Linked DNA regions of Homo sapiens. The protein of the gene in region 4 interacts with the protein of the main gene of each other region in a pairwise test. Each region holds a gene or a part of one and is shown on either strand. Other genes may lie near its edges. The genes, in order: NAF1, CSTF2, MAPK1IP1L and SS18L1.

Region 1 (7,033 bases), on a different chromosome or scaffold from region 4:
CTGTATGAGGAGAAGTGGGCCGGCCTGAGCCTTGCTGTGTCTTAAGTTGCTCTTTACAGTTTAGCTCTCAGGTGTTAGTCAATCTAAACTCTACACTCAGAGGCTAATGGTTATTTAAAATATTGTTAAATTCCTCTTTTCTACTCTGGATTAGCCAAATTGCTTATGTGAACTTGGTCAAGTTTTCCTGTAACATACCTATTAGTATTGGCTCATGCCACATACTGTCTATTGTATGGCTTCCTGTTATCTACTGCCTGTGATGTTGTTTTACTTAAAACTTTATAATGATTTCATTATAGTTGTGGCTCATAAACACTTCAGAACCTAGGAACAGTCAACTAAAATACTATGCTTTGCTTTTGTCCAAGAATTTTGAATGTCACTTATATTTTAGTTCAAACCATACTGCACAGACCTGAAGTTGGCAAGGAATTTTTCCACTGAAATTGTTTTTCACACTTAGGAAATGGATTCATGCTATCTAGGAAACAAATCCCTGGGAAACAGTCTGTGTACCAGGTTGCAAACGATGATTATTTTACCTTGTATTAATGGATACACAGGAAACTTAAAAGATATTTTTAAATCTCTGACCAAATGAAGAATTGGGTTTGTGTATATGTGAGAGAATTAAACTTGTGAATTGTTTTTAAGACAATTTTAAGTGAAAGTAAGACTACAATAATATATGTCATGTAGGCCAGTAAGAGTGGTGCTGAGTGCACCTCTTCTGTCCTTCACAGTTCTTACTGGACGAGGTCTACTGGATTTATCTAAACCTTTTCAAAGCAGATGTCTTGCTATTTTCTTAAAGTTTTTTGCTTTTACACTTTTTTAAAGCTTTAAATTTGTGATGCTATTAGTGTTATTTCATAATACATTGGCATTTTAATAGTTTTTAATGTCACTACTTCTTTTTAGAGTACACATATCTTCAGAATGGTGGTGCCCTGATAGGTGAGCTGTTTTACGCCTTAATGAAAATTAATGAAAGATTCAGTGCTGTACTGAAATCATAAAATGTGAAGAGCATTTACTATCAAAAATCAAGAACTGAGGATGTGATAAAACAGCCATGTTCAATGCAGTTGGTATAAATTGGTCCAAGCTATTTAGAAAGCTATTTAGTAATTTCCATTAAAACTTTTATGCCTTAGTGTTAATTATCGTACTTTCAGCTTCAATACCTCCACTCCTTACAAATCAATTTTTAGGAAGTCTGAAGTATAGTGATTTATATATGTTTATCATGGCATCATGTATTATGTTGAACAAATTGGAAGCTGCCTAAATGTCCTACAATAAGAAAGAAGTTAAGTAAGTTGTCCTGAGTCTGTAAAGGGGTGTTTTATGATAGCTAAAATTATACTTACAAAGAATATAACATGGAACAACTTTAGGTTTTTAAAAGGGGGCAGTATACAAAACTACAGTATGGTCTTAAAGAAAAAAATAACGTATTATAGAAAAAAGACTGGAAAAATCTATACTGGCATTGATCATGGTCTTATCTCTATAATATACATATATTATCTCGCTTTTGTCCCCCAGGCTGTAGTGCGATGGCACAATCTCGGTTCACTGCAACCTCTGCCTCCTGGGTTGAAGTGATTCTCTTGCCTCAGCCCCTGAGTGGCTGGGATTACAGGTGCCTGCCACCACACCCGGCTAATTTTTGTATTTTTAGTAGAGACAGAGTTTCACTATGTTGGCCAGGCTGGTCTTGAACCCCTGACCTCAGGTGATCCGCCCGCCTCACCTCCTAAAGTGCTGGGATTACAGGCGTGAGCCACTGCGCCCAGCCAGAAAATATATTTTTTAATTCACGTATTTTGAGAAGAAAGTACAATTTGAAACCAAGAAGTTTCCTTTCATTATTCTTAAAACGTTTTCAGAAGTAAAATATGTGGTTCTGCTAAAAGCAGTTCTTTTAGTTAAATGTTAAAGGCTGCACCATCTTTGTGTTTTTTAAACATAAATAACTTCTACTTTATTAGTTGTTAAATTAGAAAAAGTCTGTAATTTTACAAAATTCCTAACACTGTGGAAACAGCAAAAGTGATTTAACTCCTATTGAAGTCAGAAGCTTGCTTTTATATTTCCCATCTGATGATTCCAAATGTATACAGTTTTCTCAAAAGTTACCAATTATAATCCTTTTCTGTGTACTTTACAAGTTAAATGAGCAATAATTTAAAAAAATCATAATTTGCATCGAGTTGGTACCATCAAAATGATTTGAATTTGGTGAGGAACAAACTTGTTACTATTGTTTCACATTCATAGAAGGGAAATCTGGAATGAGCGAGTGCATTTTAATCAATATATGAAGACTGAATATGTAAAAATGACATAAATATAACTAAAAAATTATTTTATTGCCCTAACACTGACAAAATTACCTTGTTCTGGCAATTATCAGTGGGATTTTTAAAAGAAAACACTGCTGACTTTTCAAATAGTTATTTTACATGTTAAAAGAGGCCTTTATGTTTCTATTACAGATATTCGAGATATTTGGACCTGTTGCACATCCATTTTATGTGTTACGGTTTAATTCTTCAGATCACATTGAGAGTAAAGGTATTAAAATAAAGGAGACTATGTATTTTGCTCCATCAATGAAAGATTTCACTCAATATATATTCACAGAAAAACTAAAACAGTAAGTACTTTACCGGCATGTTGTTCTTCACTTACCTAACGTTTATATTTTAAGAATAATTCTCAGTGATGTAATTTCTTACAGTTATATTGTGTGTGTCTTGCAAAGAGTTCATTTATCTTCCTAATAATATCTTTGAAGCCTACAATTTATTTTCAGATTTTGTACGTAGAATTCATATCTTTTGTAAAAAATGAGATGATCAGCCATTAAGAGCACATTTGAGCCATGTACACTTTCTGATTCTAGTTCAGTGTTTTTTCCATTATGTACATTCTTTAATGTACTTACTATTTTAGTATTAGTACTAATATTATTATCATTTCTTAATAACTTTTTTTTCAGTTAAGTAAAATTCTCTTTGGATTCTATTTAGGGGCCTTGCTCTTCAATAAAACTTTAAAATAGTTTTCAAGAGAAAAAAAATGAGTGTTATCTCTTTATTTTGCTTATAAATTTTAAGTTTGTAGAAGAGACAACTAACACGTGTCCCTGAAAAATTGTGTAGAAAGTTACGGTGTATGGAGTTGACCTAACCAACAAACCAGTGCTCTCCATTTTGTCTATCAATAATGCTAAGTGATTTCTGTGGCATGTGACCGCAATATTTTTTTATATTTGTGCTCCCATTGGTTGAATATTTTTCAAATGTTAGCTGTTGCCAGCTGTTAGTTGTAGAGCTGTTTGTATCAGCTAAACTTGTTATAATTATGTTATTTAATTTTTTATATCAGCAAATAGCATATGAATTTAAGATTTTTTTTTAATAAAAATAACTTGAATGCTTTCGAATGATGTAATGAATATGAGCCACTAAAAATATTTTCAAATTGGGAGTGGAAGAAAAGACTGCCAAAGACTGGGGGAAGGTTAAATCCAGAAAGACTTTGCACTCAGTTTGACACAGAAGTTCCTTTTAGTTCTAGCTCTTCTTTTATTGGAGACTTAAAACCTAGGCGATACATTTTTATAGATGTTGTTTTTGCAGGAAAACAAAGGAACTTTGGTCACTGAGTAACTTTGGTATTATGTCAAAGGTACCAACCCCAGTTGCATGGCATAAGAAGATTACTTATACCACTTACATGTTAAATCAAGTCTCAAGTCACCAAATTTCATTTATTTCAGAGATGAAAATTTTGATCCTGATAATTGATTTAACTCATGTTTAAGAATCTACATAAAGATCTGGAGGAATATTTTGCCTAAGTTATTCTTCACATTGCATAAGGTTATTTTCTTAAATAACACTGACAAGAAAGATGAATTAAATACACATAAAGTCTTCAAGATATTAATATGTTCTAAAATGCTTTAAATATTTAGCATTTCATCCTGCTTTGAATATAAAGATACTGCTGTGGATATGCCATATATTTAGCTTTTTAACAAATAGAGTATTTTAGCTTAAAACAGATAAATTTGAAGAGGTTTTCTGAAGATGGTTTTTAAATAGATTTTAGATAATAGACTCAGTCTTTGGTTTTGATTTGCAGTTCTTCTATTAAGAAGCAGTAGTAAATCAGTGAATTGGGAAATTAGACCTATATTGCAGAAACCTCCCTCTCCCAGGAAAACTGTTGTATTCTAGACCTCATTTTGGCATCTGTCATGGGAACTTGGTGGAGTACTTTGTCTTTGAGGTAGAGAAGTTCAGCTCCTTTCCAGCTTACTGTTCTCTAATGAGGCTATTTTGATCTTAGTTTCTCATGTACTTACTGTCTTGTTAAAAGTGCCTTTTGAAATGTTGCTTGATCTTTCCTTTAGTAGATTTTGATTTTTTGTAATAGACGCACTAGTTGGGGAATTTTTCCCATTTATGTCTGTGATTCCAGGCTAACAGCAGTCCAGATCATGAGATGTCATATGTGCAGAAAGGAATACCAGAGATATATTTAAGGCCCATGTGTGAAATGACAATTGAGGAAATGCTTTTTTCTTTTAAGTGATGGAAAAGCCATTGATAATGGCTCATATATAATGTCAAAGTTCCGAATCAAAAATTTAAAGCAAACTTAATAACTTTCATGTTGTGCCAGCAAACTGACATCTGTACATTGATTTTAATGGCCTTAATTCCTGGGAATCTCATTTATTTTTGAGATCTAGTTTAAAACAATAAGGACATCTAGTCCTAATACTTTGTAATATTTTACTTTGTGATATTTTAACATAATGGAATAACAAAATAGTAGCTGAAACTATGAAATTAACAAAATTAAAAAGATTAAAAATGAGCTTTCACAAATTATACTGCTCATAATAGATATCTGTACTTTTGTTGGATGTAAAGTGTAAAACTCTCCACCAAAAGTTGTTGATTTTCAGCTGCAATTACACATTTCACACATGCCAGTCATTATATTGTCCTTCAGAATCTTTAAAGCAGCTTCTCTTCCTCTTCCTCCAACTATTCATAGTTAGCCTTTGTTTGACCCTCACTGCTTTGAGAATCAGTGTTGGAATAAGCCTTGGTTACTCATAGAGGATTGCTGACATTCCTCAGGTAAACTGAGGAGAAAATAATTCATATTGATATCTCTGCCATTAAACCTGTAAAATCTGTGAAAAGGGAATGCCTCATAGTCATTTTTATGTCCTTCGCACATGGAACAACTTCTGATCTACAGTTGGCGTGAAATAAGCATTTTTTTTAAACTGAGTTTTGTGAAAACTGCAAATATTATGAAAACAAAAATCAAAAGAGCTGTCCATCTGCTTTCCACTGCACACCATAGCCTTGGCTTCTCATTCCAGTTCCCTAATCCTAATATTTCTACTTGCTCAACTTTTGTGTTTTTCTTAGGAGCTTCCCACATCTTTTGAAATAAGGTAAAAGACACATAACTGTATTGCAAAATTAAAGGTTGAACTCATGTCCTTTACTTTATTATTTTCTGTACTTTTAAGTTATGAGCACTTAATAGAATTGTGATGAATACTTTTTTGACTCCCATCCCCACCCCACTCAGGGATAAGGGATCAGATGCATCATGGAAGAATGATCAGGAACCACCACCAGAGGTAAGTATAAGTCTTTTTATGCAACATTTTATAAAGTAGGGCAGGACTTAATCTTATAAATTTTATCATTCTTGCTGTTAGGGAAGTCATTAATACTGGCTAGCAGCCATACTGCCTTATCCTGTCCTAGCGCATGTATTCTCTCACCGTCCTAGATGACTATTTCATACCTTTCAGTGAAAGGTTTTGATTGATCATTTAGGAAAAAAACTTTTTTCAGTTACATTTAGTTGTATTTTAATAATTATCACCTTATCATTTACATTGTAGTTTACTATTTTTGTCAACTTTGTTGATGTCTGATAAAGGCAGGCTGTCATTATTTTTTAAAAATTTAATTGAGTTTAGTAAATACACCATATGGGACATGAAGACATGGTGCTTTTAATAGCTGTCCTTCTTTTGGAAGTACAGAATCATTGGAAGCACAAGATCATTGGAAGCTACCTACCTCTCTACTTTTTACGATATAACTACCTTTCTAAAAAGAGACCTTGATTTTCTTTTTGTATCTATGTCAGCAAAACAATAGTTTTATGCCCCAAGGTGACTTGATAATCTAGTCTTCCTAGAGATGTGAAGTAAATTTAGGAATAATATGTAAATAAGTTAATGATTTAATAGGATTACTTGGTTAACATTCCATGAAAGTGTTTAAGCAGATTATCTTGAGGGGTTTTTTTTTTGAATTACAACAATGAATATATTCATTTCTTAAAAATAGCATGTATTTATACAGTATAAAATAAAAATGTATATAAATATTTTTATAAGTAAAAATTATACATGAGAGTTTTTAAAGCTTGCTCAGCAGTTCTTATGAAGTTTTCTCAGTATTACAGTTTTTTTTTTGTTTTTTTTTTTTTTAACAAATATAGACATGGGGGTCTCAGTGTGTTGCCCAGGCTGGTCTCAAGCTCTTGGCCTCAAGTGATTCTCCAGCCCTCAAGCAAGCTTCTGCCTTGGCTCCCCAAAGTGCTGGGATTACAGGCATGAGCCCCTTGCCCAGCCAGTATTACAGATTTTTGATACTTACCGATTTAACCTTGGCCATTTTAGATGTTTAAAGCAATCGTAAATCATGATCTGTGTTTCTAATTTTACTGAGGTATGAATCAGGTTTATGCCCACTTGGAGGGTTCTATACAGGTATGAATCACTTAACCAGTGAATGATCCTTGCTTAGTATCTGAATTGAAATGGAATTATGTTTTCTAATTAATGTTATGTATTTATGTGATTTCAGTTAAGGCTCTGAATATTCACTTAATGTTCTGAATTAAGTTTTAGAGTATCTATAGCATCTTATTACTGGAATTACATGTTTTAAACGTGTTTAGA
Region 2 (4,663 bases), on a different chromosome or scaffold from region 4:
AGGAATGCAAGGAGCAAGTATACAGGGTGGAAGCCAGCCTGGCGGCTTTAGTCCCGGGCAGAACCAAGTCACTCCACAGGATCATGAGAAGGTAAGCAACACTGTCTGACTGCCTCCTTATGCACAATTCTAGCCTTTTTGATTCCTCTTTTCACAGTTACCATGTGACGATCCTGGGTCTTCAAAGTCCCTTTGGAGGTGATGTTTATTCTAACTTAGAACTCTTTTATGATCTTGTTACCTGAAAATTTGTGAGTCTGGTCCTGAAGTTCCTAATGGATGTGAAGTTCTTAAGTGGATGTAAATGGCAGCTTATTTTATATTTCACACTCATCTGCCAATAGCAGGTTTTTCTTGTTCAGGCCAGATTGACCTGAAAATCCACACCCTTTTTCCTTCCCTTTCTACTTTATCCCTAAAAACAATAGTAGATTCCCCATGATTATATCTTTCTGTTTTTATATTTGACCATTGTGGGGAGCTTATGTCTGATGGAAAGGCTAAAATTTGTGAAAAAGAGAGACTTTCAAAACAGGATTAAAACTTGAAGGATTTCCAGGGCTCACAGATACCATCTTAGTCTCCAGGAACTTTGAGTTCATGAAGTTGTCTGTTTTGAATCGTCTAATCTTAGGTATTTTAATTTATACTTGTTCTTTTCATTGTACCTTTTCTCACCAGTTTTTTTTTATTTTTTATTTTTTTTGGAGGGGGGCTGTTGGTTTTTTTCTGTGTGAAATGTTCTTCCTTTTTCCATTTTGCTTCATATCCCACTACAGTAGCTTTTTGGACAGAAGCTGGTGGTGGGTTTTTTGTTTTGTTTTGTATTTTTTAGCTGCCATCATTAAAACTCACTACCTTTTTTTTTTCCTCTGCACAGGCTGCTTTGATTATGCAGGTTCTACAACTGACTGCAGACCAGATTGCCATGTTGCCTCCTGAGCAAAGGCAGAGTATCCTGATTTTAAAGGAACAAATACAGAAATCCACTGGAGCACCTTGATAGGTGAGCAAACTTAATCCCCATCTGAGTAGGACTAGCTCCTTGTCTATTCTGGGTATATACTTTTAACCTTAACCAACAAGATTGTTCTCTCAGCGGCCCTCAATCCACTCAGCTAGACTCTTCTTTACCCTTCAGTAGGTCAGCTCCTGTAGGGATAGAGTAAGGCTATACAATGTTTGTTCAGTTGTTGAATTGCTTATAATCTTTCCTAATGACAAAGGTAATGTATGATCAGTTTAACAAAAGTAATCATATACAGAAATGTAGAAGGTGAAAGGTAAAAAGCCCTGTTTCCTCAATCTCATTCCCCAGACAAAACCTCTAAATATAGTTTGGTGTGTATCCTTCTACAATCAATTGTATTATTTTATTCCAAACTGTCCTGTCAAAATGGAAAAATACAAAGCATTTCAATAAAATGTGTAAATATTTTGTTTCTTGTATTTATTTTATAGGGAATATTTTGATGTTGAACTATAGTAGCACATAATTTAAGGTAGTAAATGTCCGTCATCACCATCAGTTTCTATATATTTTGGAGATCGCTGTACCCTGCTACCCTTATTTTTCTTGCTCATCATTTAGGCAGAAAGAATCCAGGGGCCAAGCACAGTGGCTGAGCCCTGTAATCTCAGCTTTGGCAGGCTGAGGTGGAAGGATTACTTGAGACCAGGAGTTCAAGACCAGCCTAAGCAACATAGTGAGACCCCATCTTTACAAAAATTTTTTAAAAAATTAGCCAGGCATGGTGAGATGCGCCTATAGTTCCAGCTACTTGTGAGGCCGAGGTGGGAGGACTGGTTGAGTCCAGGAGGTCAGGGCTGCAGTAAGCCATGATTATGCCACTGCACTCTAGCCTGGGTCACAGAGTGAGACTCTGTGTCAAAAAAAAAAAAAAAAAAGGATCCAGGTAACCTGCTTCATAAATAATCATGTGACAACTTGATTACACATACATGTATCAGTGTTTCTTTTTTAAAAAAAATTTCCCCAGCATTTTGTATTTTATAAACAGTTCTTTTTTCTAAAAACAGTTTAAAATTCATGTTGCCCCACTATCAGGTAGGACAGCACAATTTAAATTTCTACTTTTTACCCCATCCATATTATAATTCCTATTCTTATGTTATATAATAGTGAACTCATTTAACTATTAATAATTACCACTCTTACAAAATATATCATTTTAATCCATACTTGTGATGTCTTTAAACATTTAAACTGCGACTATGCATCATATATGTATTTAGACCTTAAATGAATTAATGAGAAGCTATCATAGATAGAAGGCTCAGTAGACTTTTGGTACCTTAACGTTTTATTCCACAAACCCCACATATTCTTTTTTTTTAGTAAAAGTATAGACTACCTATTACATTCAGAGGAATAAATAAAAATTATTTCTTTTACTAATTTACTTAAGCCAGAGAAGGCATTCCCTACAATGTGAGAAAATTACTCCTTACTGTTTCTGGATAGTAGAGGTAGAAATGTTTCTGAAATTTCTTTCATTATAGTTTTGCTTATAGGATGTTTAATTTAAGGCCTTGCATATTAACCACAAGGCAAAGTTTTTGTCTATTTTTTTACCTTTTATTTTTAAATAATCATAGACTCAAGGAAAGTTGGAAAAATAGTACAAGGAGTCTCATGTACCCTTCACCCAGTGTAGTGCAAAACCAAGAAATTGACATTGGCACATTACTGTTAACTTGACTGCAAACTCAGTTTTCACCATTTTAAAAAAACTATCATGATTTGTGTATATGTATGTGTGGTTCTATGCAATTTTATGTGGGCAAGATTTTATTGTGTGTCTACTGGTGTTTGTGCATACCATGGCTAAAGTGTTGGGTTTTCCTCCATCCTATACCTAGCTAGTTGTGATCCATCTCTGCCATCATGGACAGGCTTCTATACTGTTGTCATTAGAGATGAATGGTTCTCAAACAAGGGCAGTTTTGCCCCCTAGGTGACATTGTCTTGAGACGTTTTTGGTCATCACAACTTTAGGGAGTATGGCATGCTACTGGCATTCAGTGGGTAGAGGCCAGAGATACTGCTAAACATCCCATAATGCACAGGATGGTCCCCCTCACCCACTTCCCAATAGCAACTAGTACTCCAGCCCAAAATGTCAGTAGTGCTGAGGTTGAGAAACCCTGCTGCAAGGGCTGATTGCTTTGAGGAGTCAGGAGGCAGGAGACAGATACTTTGCAAATCTGTCCTGGTGATTTGATTATATGCCTGTCCTCCCTCCCCTAGCCTTTTTATTTTTTTTCCTGAAGTTTTTCCGGAAGAGAGCTTTGTCTTCACTTCTAATGGCTTTGTCCTAACTTCTTCTTACAGGTTTTCAAAAATACCTGGCAAGAAATCTGGAAATTCTATAATTTTGTTGAAATATTGAAAAAAGATGACCTGCATCCTAACCCTTGAATGACTCAAATCAGTGCCAGGTGGAGGACTCCCATCACCTTCTCTCAGAACAAAATCACTTCATTTTATTGTCTTAGTTTGTATATTTTCTGTGACTTGAAATAAACTTTGAACACAATTTTAGTACACTGCAAATTGATACACATGACCTTTTTGCTTTTAAAAAGCTTAACACTAAGGGTGAAACCTTAGATGTGTTTTCTACCCTTACTGCAGTATTGTACTTTAACATATTGCCATAGTTTTGTTTTTAAGTTAACCACTTATTCTTCTTGATGATATTTGAGAATTTCTCAGAAGCAATGTTTTCTGGAACTTGGTTTTTGTTTAGTTTGCTTCCAGTAAGAATTATTATAAGGCTTTGCCCTCTGAAAATATTCTAGCACTTCGGAGTCTTCTAGGAGAAAATATCACATGCTTAGAGCTATAAAATGGTCAGAAGGCTAACAGAGCAAAGAGCCTAGCACAGCTGTGTGTTTAGTTTAGAAAAATCCAAATATCAAAATGCATTTGTTTCAATAGCAGGTCTGAACATGTATAATTCAGAGTTAAGACAAAAATTGTTTTAGCACTGGTTTGAGTGTGTCAGCAACACAAGAGACTGTTGACATTTACTTGTGTGTTCTTAAACTTATCAGTCTAGGCAGTCAACTTTGAAAGTTTAAAAAGCCACTGATTTTTCACATGCTCAAGATGAAATAAAAACAGAAATCAAATGAACAAAATACATTTCATCCTATCTTCCAGGCAGTCCCTAACCTGCAGCCCTACCCTGTAACTACGTTTATTCTGGGAACTTACAACACAGAAAACCCTAAAACTTGTACATTCTTCTCATTTTAAGTGGACCAAATGTAGAGCACAGTCAGATTGCTCATTAGGTCTGCTCCTGCCTGCTTCCTTGCGGATAGGTATGAACATAATTAGTGCCATTAGCTCTAATCTATGGGTCTTATTGCCTAGTATTTCTCTCTCTCGCCGCGCCGCCGCCTCCTCCTCTCCCCCCACCCCAACCCCATCTCTCTCGTAGTGGCATTAAGGAGGAACATGGTTTCTCTCTATCAGGCCAACCTCAAGAGGTTAAGAGTTGCCTTAATAATCAGTAAAGTTCTACTGGAACTACTTTTGAGCCAATTTATATTCTTGGAATTCTATCCCCTGGGTTAGGATTATGGTCAGGTGAATTAAAAGCCTGGCATAGGCTTAGAGAATGTAATAGCA
Region 3 (7,637 bases), on a different chromosome or scaffold from region 4:
ATAAATTTGTCTAAAATTTTATAACTGTTGAACAAAGGGAAGATTTGAACAGTGTAAATTCCAGAGTTGAGAAAGCATTTAGCATGGTGGAAATGTGGAGAGCTTATTGGTGAGAGAGGATGGAGCTAAGAGAAATAAGATCAAATATTAAAATTAGGAATTTAGGCATTACCTCAGGGAAAAGCCTTGACAGTGAAAAGAAACTACTTAATCGCTAATAGCTAGTCTGGACCAGACACTTAACTGCGCTTTGGGAATCATCCTGGGCTAATCAGGAAATAAACTTGACTTTTCTATTTTTCTCTGAAGCTTTACAGGACATACTCCCACTCCCATTTTTTTCTAAGCCTACAGCATCTTGATTCATAGTATAATTCCTGAAGTATGCTGAATGGACTTTTTAAGGTTCCTTTAGCATTTTTGTATAGAGTTATATGTGATCTTTCTATAACCATGCCATTCACTTAAATAATTCATGAAGGGAATGGTTTAATTTAAAGGAAGACCTAATAGGAAGAAGATTAAAGGAAGCTTTTAGTCAGCCTGTGGCTAGATTTATTGATTTGGTGATCAAACCTGTGCTATTTCCTGAATTTCAGCTAATGGCCAACTGTGGTCAAAGAATGGCTTTCAGTTAAAGTTTTGACTTCTTATTATAAATAATATAAAGAATGTCTCAGTAATTAGAAATCCCTTAATAAGTAGAACAAATGTGGCAAGTAGGACTCCTATCGGTATACAAATTCCATTTCTTTTTATAAGAAAAACACATAAACCATTATCATTTATTCATGAGCCAAAGCCATTAAGAAGATAAATCCAGTTATCAGCTTCCTGTCTCTGAAGTTTGGATCATTTTATAGATCCACGCAATAGAGAGCTTCCTTCCTATGAAACAAAAACCTTGAGATCTCTTTTTTTTTGAGACAGAGTCTCGCTGTTGTCAGCCCAGGCTGGAGTGCAATGGCGCAATCTCGGTTCACTGCAACCTCTGCCTTCCAGGTTCCAGCAATTCTCCTACCTCAGCTCCCAAGTAGCTGAGATGACAGGCGTGTGCCACCACGCCCAGCTAATTTTTGTATTTTTAGTAGCGATGGTGTTTCACTACATTGGCCAGGCTGGTCTCGAACTCCTGACCTCAGGTGACCACCCGCCTCAGCCTCCCAAAGTGCTGGGATTACAGGCATGAGCCACTGTGCCCGGCCAAGATCTAACTCACGCTTACTTTTCATTAAAATATTTCTTGTCGCTTTTAGCTATTGTCAGAATCCAATAAACAGCTTACGCATTCATTTTGGTAAAGCAAATTTCACAGGAAAATAGACAAAATTATAAGAGATTCCTGGAGACAACACAAGGAAAACAATGTTTAAAAGCAAAATAGCCTGTGTAATGTTAGGTAATGTAATGCCCAAGTGAATAAAAGATTTTTCGTCAAGCAAACTACTGTTTCTACTTTGGGGGAAAAAAGTCAGTTTTACATTTGTAATTTAAGGAAAGAACAGAAAGCACAAAGGTTTTTCTTTTCTTTATTAATGGCCTACTAGAAATGAGCAGTGCAAGAGTCTACCTGTACTATTCTAATACAGTAAGATATTGGACACAAAATGGAGGTAACTTTTTAAAATAGATTGGCTTGGAAGTTGAAATGTAGATTAATGGATATAACCCAATAGAAAGGGATTTTCAAATAAAACCAAAGTCTATTTTTTTATTTACTTTCTAATTTTGAACAGATGACTCAGTCCTAAATCTTTGCCTTTATTTCCTATAAAATGTAGGTGATACTTGTAACTCGACTTCCTGGAGTTAATTCTTCAGCAAGAGGTGACCCTGGGAGCGTACTTTAAAATAATTGCTGTACAGCCATTGAGTACTAACATGATGATAGGTTTTCAAAATATCTTTGTAGTGGATGCTGCATAATTACATTCACTTCTCTTAGACTGTAAAAGACTTTCTTGACTTGTTTTAACAGTAGAGATAGCAGTACAATTTGAATTTATGGTTTAGGCTCTGCAATTAGAGGAACAATTGCAGTTTCCTCCTACCCTTCATATGGTCTGTGTAAAACTGATGTTTGCTTAACTTATTTTAAAAGTTGATTACGTTTTCAGAAAATAAAGATAATCACTTTTGCCATGGTTATAATCAAATCTAAGCTTTCAGACTTGAGAGCCATGGTGTAAAACTCAAGGAGGTTTATTTAAATTATGCTGACTTTGCTAGAATTGGATAAATTCTGTATAAGCCAAGTATGAGTTCACATGTACTCGAATATACAGTTTTCACAAAGCTATTACTCTCATCAGTCAGGCTTGTATGATCTATTCCTTACCACAAAAGAAGTAGACAATTGCCACTTTTATTTCTAATCCTTAAGTTGAATGTTTCTTCTTGGATGTAAGTTCAAATAAATTGATCTGGATAAATTTTCATTTCTACTTAATTAAAACTTCCTATGTAAAATCCAAAGGCTTTGTGTTTTATTTTAAAAACATAGTCTTTACTTCACACATTCAACTTAGAATCTGAAAAAGATAGAGAAACCCATATTCTTACATATTTTCTAATTTATAATACACTCCTTTTAGTTTTTTTGTGTTTGGGACTTCCAGAAGCAGGTGCCAAAATGTGATTAGAGGTGCAAGAGATTTATTTGGAGTGAAACACCTAGAAAGATAGAGAAGGGAGCAGAAGGTGGGGAATTCTTCATACCACACAGAAAGTCTGACACCTAGAAGGAAGGATTGGGTAGGGGAGCTTCGGACTTCAGTGCATCTTGAGACTGCTAGATGAGGACTTGGTTCCCAAGCAAAGGTTGCCTGTAGAGAAGCCCACAGGGACAGGAATGGCCTAGATCTAGACCCCTCCAACGTGCTCAGCTACTGGCTGATTGCAGGCAAGGAAAAGTTGGAGGCTATCCATTACTGGTACACAGCGCCAGGACTAGGGTATGGTGAGGCACTTAGGGACAAATATTTGACTATACGACTAAGGAAGACAATGTTTTGGTACAATATTGTAATATCTGAATTGATGCAAAAAAGCCTATGATGAGCAAGATACCAAATTTCAAATCAAACCTGACCAGATTACTGATTTCTTGTTGCTTCAGGTTTCAGCATGGCTCAAGGCACTGCTGATTCACTGTCACCAGTGAGAACAGGCTAGGTCCACACCAGTCGTGTAATTTTCCATAGGCCTGTGTGCCCTTACCCAAAAATAAGACTCTCGGCTTAGGTATTTGAAGTTCCTCTGTTGCCCCTTTTTCAGTGTGAGAATTGTGTGTGCTGTGGAAAACATCCAGGGATGTCTTCCTTTAAACAAGTTCATGGTTAAATGGCCACCCACTCACTCACTAATGCCTTACACAAAGCAAGATGCAAGTGTACCACATACTTTTAGGATATTTTTATATCTTAAAAAATGTATATTGGCCGGGCACAGTGGCTCACGCCTGTAATCCCAGCACTTTGCCGAGGAGGGCGGATCACAAGATCAAGAGATCGAGACCATCCTGGCCAACGTGGTGAAACCTCGTCTCTAAATACAAAAATTAGCTGGGCAAGGTAGCGCGCGCCTGTAGTTCCGGCTACTTGGGAGGCTGAGGCAGGAGAATCGCTTGAACCCGGGAGGCGGAGGTTGCAGTGAGCCGAGATCGCACCGCGCCACTGCACTCCAGCCTGGCGACAGAGCAAGACTCCGTCTCAAAAAAAAAAAAAAAGTATATTGCATATATGTATATATTTTGCACACCATATAATTATCACGACATCTTTATTGCTAGTTAGTAGGTTCCTTGACTGGGGTCATGTCATCTGTGCCTGACACAGGAGGTAATGTTTATTCAGAAATGAAGATGGCGGCTGGGCACGGTGGCTCACACCTGTAATACCAGCTCTTTGGGAGGCCGAAGCGGGCAGATCGCTTGAGGCTAGCAGGGTGAGACCCCATCTCTATCAAAAACACAAAAATAAGCCGGATGTGGTGGCACATGCCTGCAGTCTCAGCTACTCGGAGGCTAAGATGGGAGGATTGCTTGAGACCAGCAGGCAGAGGTTGCAGTGAGCCGAGATCGCGCCACTGCACTCCAGCGTGTGTGACAGAGGCCCTGTCTCAAAAACAACAAAAAAGAACATGGGAGAAGAGGCATTGATGAGGAAAAATCTACAAAGAAAGCAAATATCAATTTGTCAAGCTATTTGCAAACGTCTTCCCTTTCCTGTATTAATATTTTCCCTCTCCCCACTTTTGGCCCGAGGATCTGAGTCCTCGGGTCAGGCCGAAATCAGACCGCGTCCATACCCAGCCTCCTTCGAGGCCTAGCTGTAAAAACCGCTGAGCAAAAGGAATCCAGAATCAGCCCTCAAGCAACTCAAGACAAGTTAGCAATTTCCGCCGGGAAGCCGTGAACATCGGCAGCCACTGGCGTTTCCTCCGAGTCCTCGGAACTCCGGAAACTCTGGGAGCTTTTAGCCCGCCCACCAGGGGAAAGCGGCCCGGAGCCGGCGCCAGGTGGAGCCCATCCCCCTAGGCCTGGCGGGCCGCAGTACCGCCAGGGGCCTGCGGGAGGCGCACGCGGCGCGGCCTGAGGGGAGGGGGAGAACGGGCGGAGGCGGTGCGCTCGGCGCTTCCTGTTCCGGCGCCAGGAGGAGCCGCGCGCTGCTGGTGCTGTTGCCGCCGCTGCTCTAGCTGCCGTCAGTCAGGCTGCGCCCGCGTCTTCAGGGCCCAGTCCCTCGGACCCATCGCCGCTTCTAGACCCTACTGCGGTCTCGGATATTGCCGGGTGAGGCTGCTTCGGTACTAGTGGGAGTCGTGAAGGGGAATCGGGGAGCTGGGGTTGCGGAGCCCGCGGGCGCGGCCAAGCGGGAAGCGGGCGCGGTGACCGAGGTGCATCGAGTCACGTCCAGTGCTCGGGCCGTGGTCGCCTGCCTGGCACCAGGACTAAGCGTTTCTATCGGTCGCCTTCCTCCACGCTGCGGGCTGCCTGGGGATCGCCCCCCAGGGAGAAGGTGTCGGAGGCCGCTGACGTCGCGCCCGACGGGTTTCTGGGCGCCTGACGTCAGGTCTGGCTGCGGGGCGGGGCGGGCGCGGGCCGGCCCCTCCCCCACCCCTTCCCGGCGGGCGCGACCCGCTAGGAGGCCGGTTCGCTCCGGTTGATCCCGGACTCCCTTTGTTCGTGCGTCCCTAAACGGCTGCCGGCCTCGCGCCCCTTGGCCCCGATTTCCCCTCTACCCCCACCCTATTACACTCATTCATTAATTTTTAATAAAAAGGGAAAGGCCTGAAAAGATTCTTACAAGAGTCTCGGGCGCTTGTTAATCCGCAGTGTGACAACGTTCTGGTTATGACTTACTAGAGGAATTGCTCACGGATACATTAGATGAATACCCAGGGCAAACCACGAGAAGGGCAGAATTCAGTGATCTCCTTTTTTAGGACTGAGGAGCACATACCTGCGATAGCGTATGCATAGCTGGACCGTTTTCCTCTTTACCTTGAAAAGCAAGAGTACAGCTTTTAATAGGTAAAGATTCCAGTGTTAAAGCATGAAGCCAGGCTCACTCGACCGCAAGAATTTTTTTTAGTTTTACTACTAGAGAAATACACACCTGGGGGTTGTAAAGGTCTGTTTCGAAAAGGAACCCTCATTACAGGCAAAGGTAGCCTTCAGAAACATTTCATAAGTTCTTTGTTCACTGGTGTTCTTTGGGGGAAGAATAGAAATTTTTCATGCTGGCATCTCTGAGCCCACAATGCAAAGCGAGTTTGCTTCAGAAACTTGGAGTGAATTGCAAATATTGGAATGTTCTTTTCCTCACTCCAGGCGGAATGGGTAAAATCCATCCCCAGTCTCTTAACTGAAACTTTTGAAGCTAGTGTGTTTTGAATTCAAAAATACTTGGATTTTATCTTCATCTTTTTAGAAAGTCATGTTAGACGAGAGATAACACCCCCAGCAGAGTGGGGCACCCCATAATCCAACATTAATATTTGCAGCAATAGATGTGAACATTCATTCTAAGTGGGGGCGAATAGAAACTATAAATAGCTTCAGGTCACATTTTGCCACCATGTAAGTTTTGTGCCAAACTAGGGCAGATAAAGATTTATGGACCTAAAAGTAGGCATCATAAAAGCTAATATTTGTTGAGGTTTTGCTATATTCCAGGCAGCGACTAAGAGATTTGTTTATTAAAAGTTTTACAGCAAATCTATGATGTGGGTACGATTCCGATCTTCCTTTGCCTCAAGTTTGGAGAGTTGGACTTGTCAACTCTGGCCGAACCAACCAGTGAAGAGCTGCAGTTATAGCTAGATAATCATACTTTAACGTTTACTTTTTTACCTATAAGCTAGATGTCCACATACAAAGAAAAGAGAATTTGGTATTTGTTTTCCACCCAAGCACTATTTTTTTAGGCACTTGATTGGACAGAGTCCCATTTAGTTCCTCGCAACATTACTGGCCTGGTTTTTATTTGTTTTGTTTTTTAAACTGCGTGCTTTTTACAAATAGTATGGCCTGTTCTTTATAGTTCGGGTTCATTCAGATGAGCCGACTTTTAGTGAAATAATTCAAACCCTCGTCTAAGGTCACTCTGCTAAGACTTTAATACAACCCTTCCCTTTCTCGCTATATTCTAACCCATCTGAACTGCTTATACCTCCCCAGAGATTCTCCCAGTTTTTACACTAACTGCTCTTCTTTCCCTAGGGCCCATTTCACCGCCCTCTACTCCCGGCTCTTTCCTTATGGTCCTTATGGACTGCAAAAGACAGCACATCTCAGGAATCTCCATGTAATACTATAATTTCTCTAAAGGCCAACACATTGTTTGGCATATATGTTCCAATAAGTATATAACTAAATGCCAAGAAATATTGCAGGTTGCATATCCTTTATCCCAAATGCTTGGGACCAGAAGTGTTTCAGATTTTGGATTTTTTTTACATTACACCAGTTGAGCATCCAAAATCCAGAATGCTCTAATGAGCATTTCCTTTGAGCGGCATGGTGGCACTCAAAAAGATTCAGATTTTTGAGCATTTCAAAACCCCCGTTTTTGAGTTGCCCAAATGTAAAAAATGGAACATAAGCAGATAAATGAGCCAATACTAAAAACTAGCATGTATTCTAATTTATAATTTATATTTTCTTTTTTTTTTTTTTTTTTGGAGACGGAGTCGCTTACTGTAAGCTCCGCCTCCCAGGTTCCAGCGATTCTCCTGCCTCAGCCTATCGAAGCGAAGTAGCTGGGATTACAGGTGCCTTCCACCACGCCCAGCTAATTTTCTGTATTTTTAGTTGAGATAGGGTTTTACCATTGGCCAGGCTGGTCTTGAATTCCTGGCCTCAAGTAATCCACCCACCTCGGCCTCCCAAAGTGCTGCGATTACAGGCTTGAGCCGCCGCACCCGGCCATTAATTTATATTTTCAGTACGATACATATCATCCCCCCATACTAAACAAATCAACCCAAAAATTTTGATTTCGCTTAATTTCGCCTAACAAATATCTAACATGTATATAGCACTTTATAGATTAAGTGTGTTACTATTTTCTGTGCAGTGGGCAGGAATTATAACTTCTACAGATGGAAAATGGTCTCTTATTGAGAAGTTTTTTGTC
Region 4 (7,033 bases):
TGGAACTAACTGGCTTCCAGGGTTCCTTCCAGAACGTTAAGTCTCTGAGCCTGTAAGGTTTTGCAGAATTGCCTCTGTGTATACGCTCACCTCAGTCATCCAGCTGGCTTTTCATACCCTAAGCTCACCGTTAGATCTGCACGCCTGGTTCTCACATTCATTCACTCTGCCAGTGTTTGTCACGTACTGGGTACGCGTCCGGTCTCTGCTGAGTGCTTGGTGTGTGGCCGCGACACGAACCCTGCACTTTTAGAGCTTATGTCTCGCTACAGAGACATAAGGTGGTCCCACAGGGCCAGACTGTGCTGAGGACAGAGCGGGGGGCCCCAAATGGAGCCCGCCTTCCAGATGGGGGCGCAGGCGACCGCATTTGGCCCGTGTGGGCAATTCCAGGACGAAGACACAGCGGGGAGTGGCTGGCAGCCCCAGGCTCAGCCTAGGGAGGGGGAAGCCCTTTCTGCCCAGGAACAGTGAGCAGGGCTTTGAAGGAGCTGAGGAAAGAGCAGCTTGGAAGATGGAAGAGCGGGAGCTCTCGGGACAGTGAGGAGGCCGGTGTGGCGGGAGGTGACAGGGACAGGTGGGCGTAGGGGCCTCCATAAAGCAGACATCGCTTTCCCTCTGAGTGGGATGGGGCCCCTGGAGGAGGACAGGGTCTGTGTGGTGGGAGCACTGCAGGAGCGAGGGCCTCCTAGAGGAGAATGAGCCAGGCAAGGGAAGAGGGCGTGCCAAGGTCCTGAGGCACCAGGAGGTTTGTCCCAGTGAAGGCAGCCTGAAGGAGGCTCGGTGGCTGGAGCACAGGGCATATGAAGGAGAATGGTCTGGGACATTTTTTGGAGCCTCCTTTGAGAGAGTCCTTAGCAGGAAGTGGCTCTGTGTTGGTGACTCTGAGGTGGCTGGAGGTGTTAGGGACACTTTACACTGCCAGTGAAATTTCAAAGCACTACATCGCTCAAGTTTGTTTTTCTCAGGGAATTGGGTAGGTAAGAGGCCAAAGACTGTTTTTTAAATGCTTCTCGTCCTCCTTCTTCAAGAGGGCAAAGGGTCACCAGGTAGATGTAGAGAAGCCTAAAGACCATGTAACACAGTCTCCCTGCCAGGGCACCGTACTCGGCCATGCCTGGGAAGGGCACGCTGATGAGGCATTTACACAGATGTCAGGAGGGCTCTGGTGTGCTCTCAGGACACTGTGAGGCCACTGTAGCCGACGCAGGGGCCGCCTCTCCCCAGTGTGTGCTGGGCGCTGGTCAGCGGGGAGCAGGCCCCAGCTTGGCCCTCCAGGTTTGCACAGGAGTGTCATGCTGGAGTCTGGAAGGACAGCAGTCTGCATCCTGATGTTAAATTAGAATTATATGTGAATGATTCTGATGAGACGCCATACCTCCTTCATACAGTCCTGAAAATAACTTATTTGGATTTTGTGAAATAAGTGAATGTCCTAACTTAATTATAAGACTGAACCAGAGGACATATAACTTTATACCTACCTATGAAAAGACCGTGACCGGTCGTGGTGGCCCATGCCTGTAATCCCAGCACTTTGGGAGGCCAAGGCAGGAGGATCACTAGAGCCCAGGAGTTTGAGACCAGCCAGGGTAACATAGCAAGACCTGTCTCTACAAAAAATAAAGTAGTCAGGCATGGTGGTGCATGCCTGTAATCCCAGCTACTTGGAAGGCTGAGGCACGAGGATCCCTTGAGCCCAGGAGGTCGAGGCTGTAGTGAGTCGTGATTGCACCATTACACTCCAGCCTGGGCTACAGAGAGCGAGACTTTGTCTTAAAAAAAGGAAAAAGAAAGGCCAGGCGTGGGGGCTTACACCTGTAATTCCAGCACTTTGGGAGGCTGAGGCGGGTAGATCACCTGCAGTCAGGAGTTGGAGAGCAGCCTGGCCAACATGGTGAAACCCCATCTCTGCTAAAAATACAAAAATTAGCCGGGTGCCTGTAAGCCCAGCTATTGGGGAAGCTGAGGTGGGAGAATCGCTTGAACCGGGAAGGCAGAGGTGAGTTGAGATCACGCCACTGCACCCCAGCCTGGGCGACAGAGAGACTCCATCTCAAAAAAAAGAAAAAGACACAGAGCAATGGGGAAGATAGAGAATAGAATTTCACATCTGGGGGGAAATGTGTCCATCTAACTGCAAAATATTAAGATAGCCTTTAGTCAGCATCCAGTGTAGCTGGCCGTGGCGCTTTGGCACAGCACTGCCGGCGCTGGGCGTCTCCTAGGGGCCATTGTGCACACTGTGTTATGTTTGCAGCACCCCTGGCCTCCACCACGATGCCAGTAGCACCCCCATTGCCCAGTCTGACAATTTAAAATGACTCCAGACATTGTCAGATGCCCCAGGGGCAAAACTGTCTCCGTTTGAGAACCACTGGGCTACACTTAAACATGTGCTGAGGCGGCCAGGCGCTGTGGCTCACGCCTATAGCACTTTGGAAAGCAGAGGCGGGCGGGAGCAGATAGAGACGGAGGTTGCAGTGAGCTGAGATCGCGCCATTGTATTCCAGCATGGGCAACAAGAGCGAAACTCTGTCTCAAAAAAAAAAAAAAGGTGCTGAGGCATTGGGGCTGCCAGTGGTTTTATAGGGCTCCAGGGCTGCCATGCCTTCAGCTGAGCAGCTCTGGATTTGAGGCTTTCCGTCTTACCCAATGGTGCAGGAGCAGAAAGACATCAGAACAGACTCCCACTAACTAGAATCATCACAGGCAGCTCTGGGAATGAGAATGTGACGTGTTCGGTCAGGCTGGAACAGCTTTCCTCCCTCCCCCACTTCCTCGCTGGGGGCATTCGGGAAATCTGATCATTAACTAGCTGGGGACACATGGAGAACAGGCATGCAGATGATGATCCGTTGTCTTCCCCTGTGGCAGTCTCCCGAGTGGCTTTCACCACAGGTCCGATGCTCCGTTTTGCTGCCCAAGGAATTCTGCCTTGTGGCCTTGTGGGGCACAGGCTCTCTAGTTTCTCTTCTTCATGTTGTTTTTTGTTGTTGTTTTTGAGATGGAGTCTTGCTCTGTTGCCCAGGCTGGAGTGCAGTGGCACGATCTCGCTCACTGCAGCCTCTGCCTCTCGGGTTCTAGCAATTCTCCTGCCTCAGCATCCGGAGTAGCTGGGATTACAAGCACGTACTATCACACCTGGCTAATTTTTGTATTTTTAGTAGAGACAGGGTTTCGCCATGTTGGCCAGGGTGGTCTCGAGCTCCTGACCTCAGGTGATCCTTCCAAAGTGCTGGGACTGTAATCCTACAGGCATGAGCCACTGTGCCTGGCCTTTTTTTTTTTTTTTTTTTTTAAGACAGGGTCTCACTCTGTCGCCCAGGCTGGAGTGCATTGGCAGGAACATGGCTCACCGCAGCCTCAACCTCCGGGGCATGCGCCACAACATGTGGCTTATTCTTTTTTTTTTTTTTTTTTTTTTTGAGACAAGGTCTCACTCTGTCACCCACACTGGAATACAGTGGCATGATCTCGGTTCACTGCAACCTCCACCTCTCAGGCCCAGTGATTCTCCTGCCTCAGCCTCCCAAGTAGCTGGGATTACAGGCACGTGCCACTACCACCTGGCTAATTTTTTTTTTTGTATTTTTAGTAGAGATGGGGTTTCACCATGTTGGCCAGGCTGGTCTTGAACTCCTGACCTCAAATGATCCACCCACCTCGGCCTCCCAAAGTGCTGGGATTGCAGGCGTGAGCCACTGTGCCTGGCCGAGGCTAATTTTTTCTCTTTTTTTGTAGAGATGGGGTCTTGCTGTACTGCCCAGGCTGGTCTCAAACTCCTGGGCTCAAGCAGTCCTCCTGCCTCGGCCTCCCAAATTCAGATTTGTTTTTGAAACAGGGTCTCACCCAGACTAGAGTGCAGTGGTGCAATCACGGCTCACTGCAGCCTTGACCTCCTGGGCTCAAGCGATCCTCCCACCTCACCCTCCAAGTATCTGGGACTATTGGCACACGCCACCACACCCAGCTAATATTTGGATTTTTGTAGAGATGGAGTCTGGCCATGTTGCCCAGCCTGGGTCTTTAGATTTTTTTTTATAGATTGAAACCCATCACCCTGGTCGTCCCCGCTCCCATTTTCTTACTGTAGCAGGCTCGGGGGCAGATGGTGTTTGCATTGGCTCCCAGTGGGGCCAGCTTGGAGGAGAGCCTTCCTGCATAGCAGGCCCAGCATAAGGCTCTGATGCCAGGCCTGGCACAGGCCCGGCCGCAGCGATGCCAGTGTGTGACTGAACAAATGAACCTTTGGCCCTGTCTACGTTGTTAGCCCCAGGCTTGGCCAGTGGCTTCTGGAAAGTCGTTCGCTGCCCCGCAGAGATGTGAGCAGAGGTTGTTTGCTTGCTGTTGTCCCTCCTACCCCCTGTCCGGGCTGGGGTGGACGTCTGTCTTCCTTTCACTCATTACTATAGGGGTGTAATCTGTGTCTTGATCTCTTTTAGGGCCAGTATGGAAATTACCAGCAGTAAGGGACACACATTCTGGCTGGAGCCCTTGTGGTAGCGTGTTCATCCAGGGGCCGGATGGGCTGGCGGCAGCTCTGGTGAATTGTGACATGTTGGTTACCTGTTCGCCCAGTGCCACGTCTGCATGTGAAGCGTGCTCATTTCATGCTGGGTATGACGCCGAGCGCACACCACTGGCGTGAGACAGCGCTTGGTGGTGTGATACTTTTGGTGCTGTGTATAGTATTGTATGTCGGTACACGGAGAGGTATCCTTTTTTTGTCCCCCGCCCCCTTCTCAATGTTTCTAGCTAGCTTTGGGGGTCATTTTGTCATCAGAGCATTCTGTGCCCAGGGACAGGACAGATCTCGAGGACACCACAGTCCACCTGTTCCCGTCAACAGACGTTAGGTCTCATTTTCCTCCTCATGCAGTGTTGTAGTGTGGGTTGTCAACTTTTCTTTAACTGGCTACGCCACAGCTGGACACACATGCAGCCCCTGGAGGGCAGCCTCTTCCTGTGCCTCGATGGGGTGGGTGGGAGGGCATCTTCTGTGCGTTGGGTCAGTTTCTGTTACGTAACGAAAAGGATAAACATCTCCCACGGGAGAGGCCACAGATGGCCACTTCCAGAGCTTGCCCATTGCCTGTCTCTCGCCAATTCCGTTTATCCAAAAAGGTACATGTTTTTGTATTAAAAAGTAAACAGGGATCAGTGACTGTATTCCAAATAAATATGAATCCCTAAGGGCCGTGGACAAATTGCCTAACCCAGGGCCAGCGGTATTGCTGAAGGAAAGGGGCAGCTCTCTGGGAAGTGGGCCCTCAGAGATTACTCTGGCTTTGACCCTTGTTTAGCTGATGGTCATTTCTGGGATTGGAATATTTAATAAGCCCAATTCTAAGTTGATAGGTAATTTTAAATATTCAAACCAAATCTTCCCAACAGTTGGCAAGTTGTTTATTTTATATTATTTCTTCCAGGACCTACTTGCTCAGATCTCCAAGCAAGCATTTCTTTTCTTTTAGGGATGTCTGAAAGTCACATCCAGTTACATTACTGTGTTCTTTCTAATGAAAAGTAAAGGTTTTATATAGAGAAACTTGAGTAATTTTTACATTTCTAAGACATTAAATCCCATTTAAATTCTGTGTGAACATTAAAGACAGCACACTTGCAAAAGTATGGTCAAAGGAAAAAAATCCCACATTTCAATTAACAAGTAGCATGGACATTTGATCAACCTTTAGTTGGAATAATAATATTCATATTTGCTATGAATCCTTTTAAAAAAATCTTTGGATAAATGCTGACAGATTTCCAAGAACTACCAAGAAAATACAAGAGATATCCAATGCTTGATATATGAGGCCTAGTAATAACGATATTTCTCTTTAATTGATGTTTTGTTTTAAAAGTTAAAAGTAATTCTTGGCGTGGTGGTTCACGCCTGTAATCCCAGCACTTTGGGAGGCCGAAGCGGGCGGATCACCTGAGGTCGGGAGTTCGAGACCAGCCTGACCAACATGGAGAAACCCCGTCCCTACTAAAAATACAAAATTAGCCAGGTATGGTGGTGCATACCTGTAATCCCAGCTACTCGGGAACCTGAGGCAGGAGAATGGCTTGAACCCAGGAGACAGAGGTTGTGGTGGGGCAAGATCGCACCATTGCACCCGAGCCTAGGCAACAAGAGTGAAATTCCGTCTCAAAAAAATAAATAAATAAATAAATAAATAAGTTAAAATTAATTCTTTATCCAGAGTCGGGTGCTTTAGAATTTATAAGTCACTTATGTGTTTTGCTTGAATTAATTCTGACAGCCCCTATGAGGAAATCTGGAGGCAGGTAACAGTTCCCATTTTAGAGATGAAGAACTGAGGCACAGATTAAAGGACTTGCCTGTGTTGAATACCAGTCCTGTTCTAGGACATTCTCCCCTCTCCTAGGAGACGGATGTCACGCACAAATGGGGAGAGAAGTGTTTATTTTGTAGGCACTAAGGGTTTCTAAAACCCTTAACACTGGTAAGGGCTCAAAAATAAACGTATGTGTTCATATTCGATCACCGAAATGAGAGTTCTTAATTGCTAATTGACAAACGCGTTAGCAATTTCAGTTAGGGAGTCATCTCCCTTGATTGTGTTCTTTTCCTGTCAATTTTCATAGACCTAATTTGCAAACTCAATCGGGGACTAAAATTTCCCACTGAAAATGTTAAACATTTTAGATAACTGTGAAGATAGTTTATTTTTATTCCTTGCCAATCTGGGAATATGCCTTTTTTGTGTGTTTGTGTGTTTTTTTAAGTGCTGTATTAATAATACTTTCTGAAAGAAAAGGACACTTACCCCAAAACTTCAATCTGAAATGTCTTACATTAAGAATATCTTGAATGTTGTGTATATATTTTAAAAAGCACTTTGCAAAATAGTTTGTACATTTATTTCCTAATTTATACATGATTTTTGGTGTTAATATATTTAATGATTAATAACAGAATGTTTATTTAATGTGCTGTCCATTTTTATGTAATATTATGGGGAAAGTGATGCCAGCAGTTCCTTTTCATTATTCTATCTTC

The links.
Region 1: the proteins of SS18L1 (region 4) and NAF1 interact in binary tests that used the Homo sapiens proteins (3 or more experiments, as listed by UniProt).
Region 2: the proteins of SS18L1 (region 4) and CSTF2 interact in binary tests that used the Homo sapiens proteins (3 or more experiments, as listed by UniProt).
Region 3: the proteins of SS18L1 (region 4) and MAPK1IP1L interact in binary tests that used the Homo sapiens proteins (3 or more experiments, as listed by UniProt).

Annotation. Positions count from the first base shown.
Region 1 is NC_000004.12:163,135,858-163,142,890, reverse strand, and holds part of NAF1 (H/ACA ribonucleoprotein complex non-core subunit NAF1), read left to right. Parts: intron 1-2,507; coding exon 2,508-2,668; intron 2,669-5,640; coding exon 5,641-5,692; intron 5,693-7,033. UniProt on the Homo sapiens protein: RNA-binding protein required for the maturation of box H/ACA snoRNPs complex and ribosome biogenesis.
Region 2 is NC_000023.11:100,837,359-100,842,021, forward strand, and holds the end of CSTF2 (cleavage stimulation factor subunit 2), read left to right. Parts: coding exon 1-91; intron 92-880; coding exon 881-1,003; 3' UTR 1,004-1,006; intron 1,007-3,355; 3' UTR 3,356-4,162; downstream 4,163-4,663. UniProt on the Homo sapiens protein: One of the multiple factors required for polyadenylation and 3'-end cleavage of mammalian pre-mRNAs. This subunit is directly involved in the binding to pre-mRNAs.
Region 3 is NC_000014.9:55,047,015-55,054,651, forward strand, and holds the start of MAPK1IP1L (MAPK-interacting and spindle-stabilizing protein-like), read left to right. Parts: upstream 1-4,632; 5' UTR 4,633-4,789; intron 4,790-7,637.
Region 4 is NC_000020.11:62,174,737-62,181,769, forward strand, and holds part of SS18L1 (calcium-responsive transactivator), read left to right. Parts: exon of another isoform or gene 1-1,582; intron 1,583-4,445; coding exon 4,446-4,472; 3' UTR 4,473-7,033. UniProt on the Homo sapiens protein: Transcriptional activator which is required for calcium-dependent dendritic growth and branching in cortical neurons. Recruits CREB-binding protein (CREBBP) to nuclear bodies.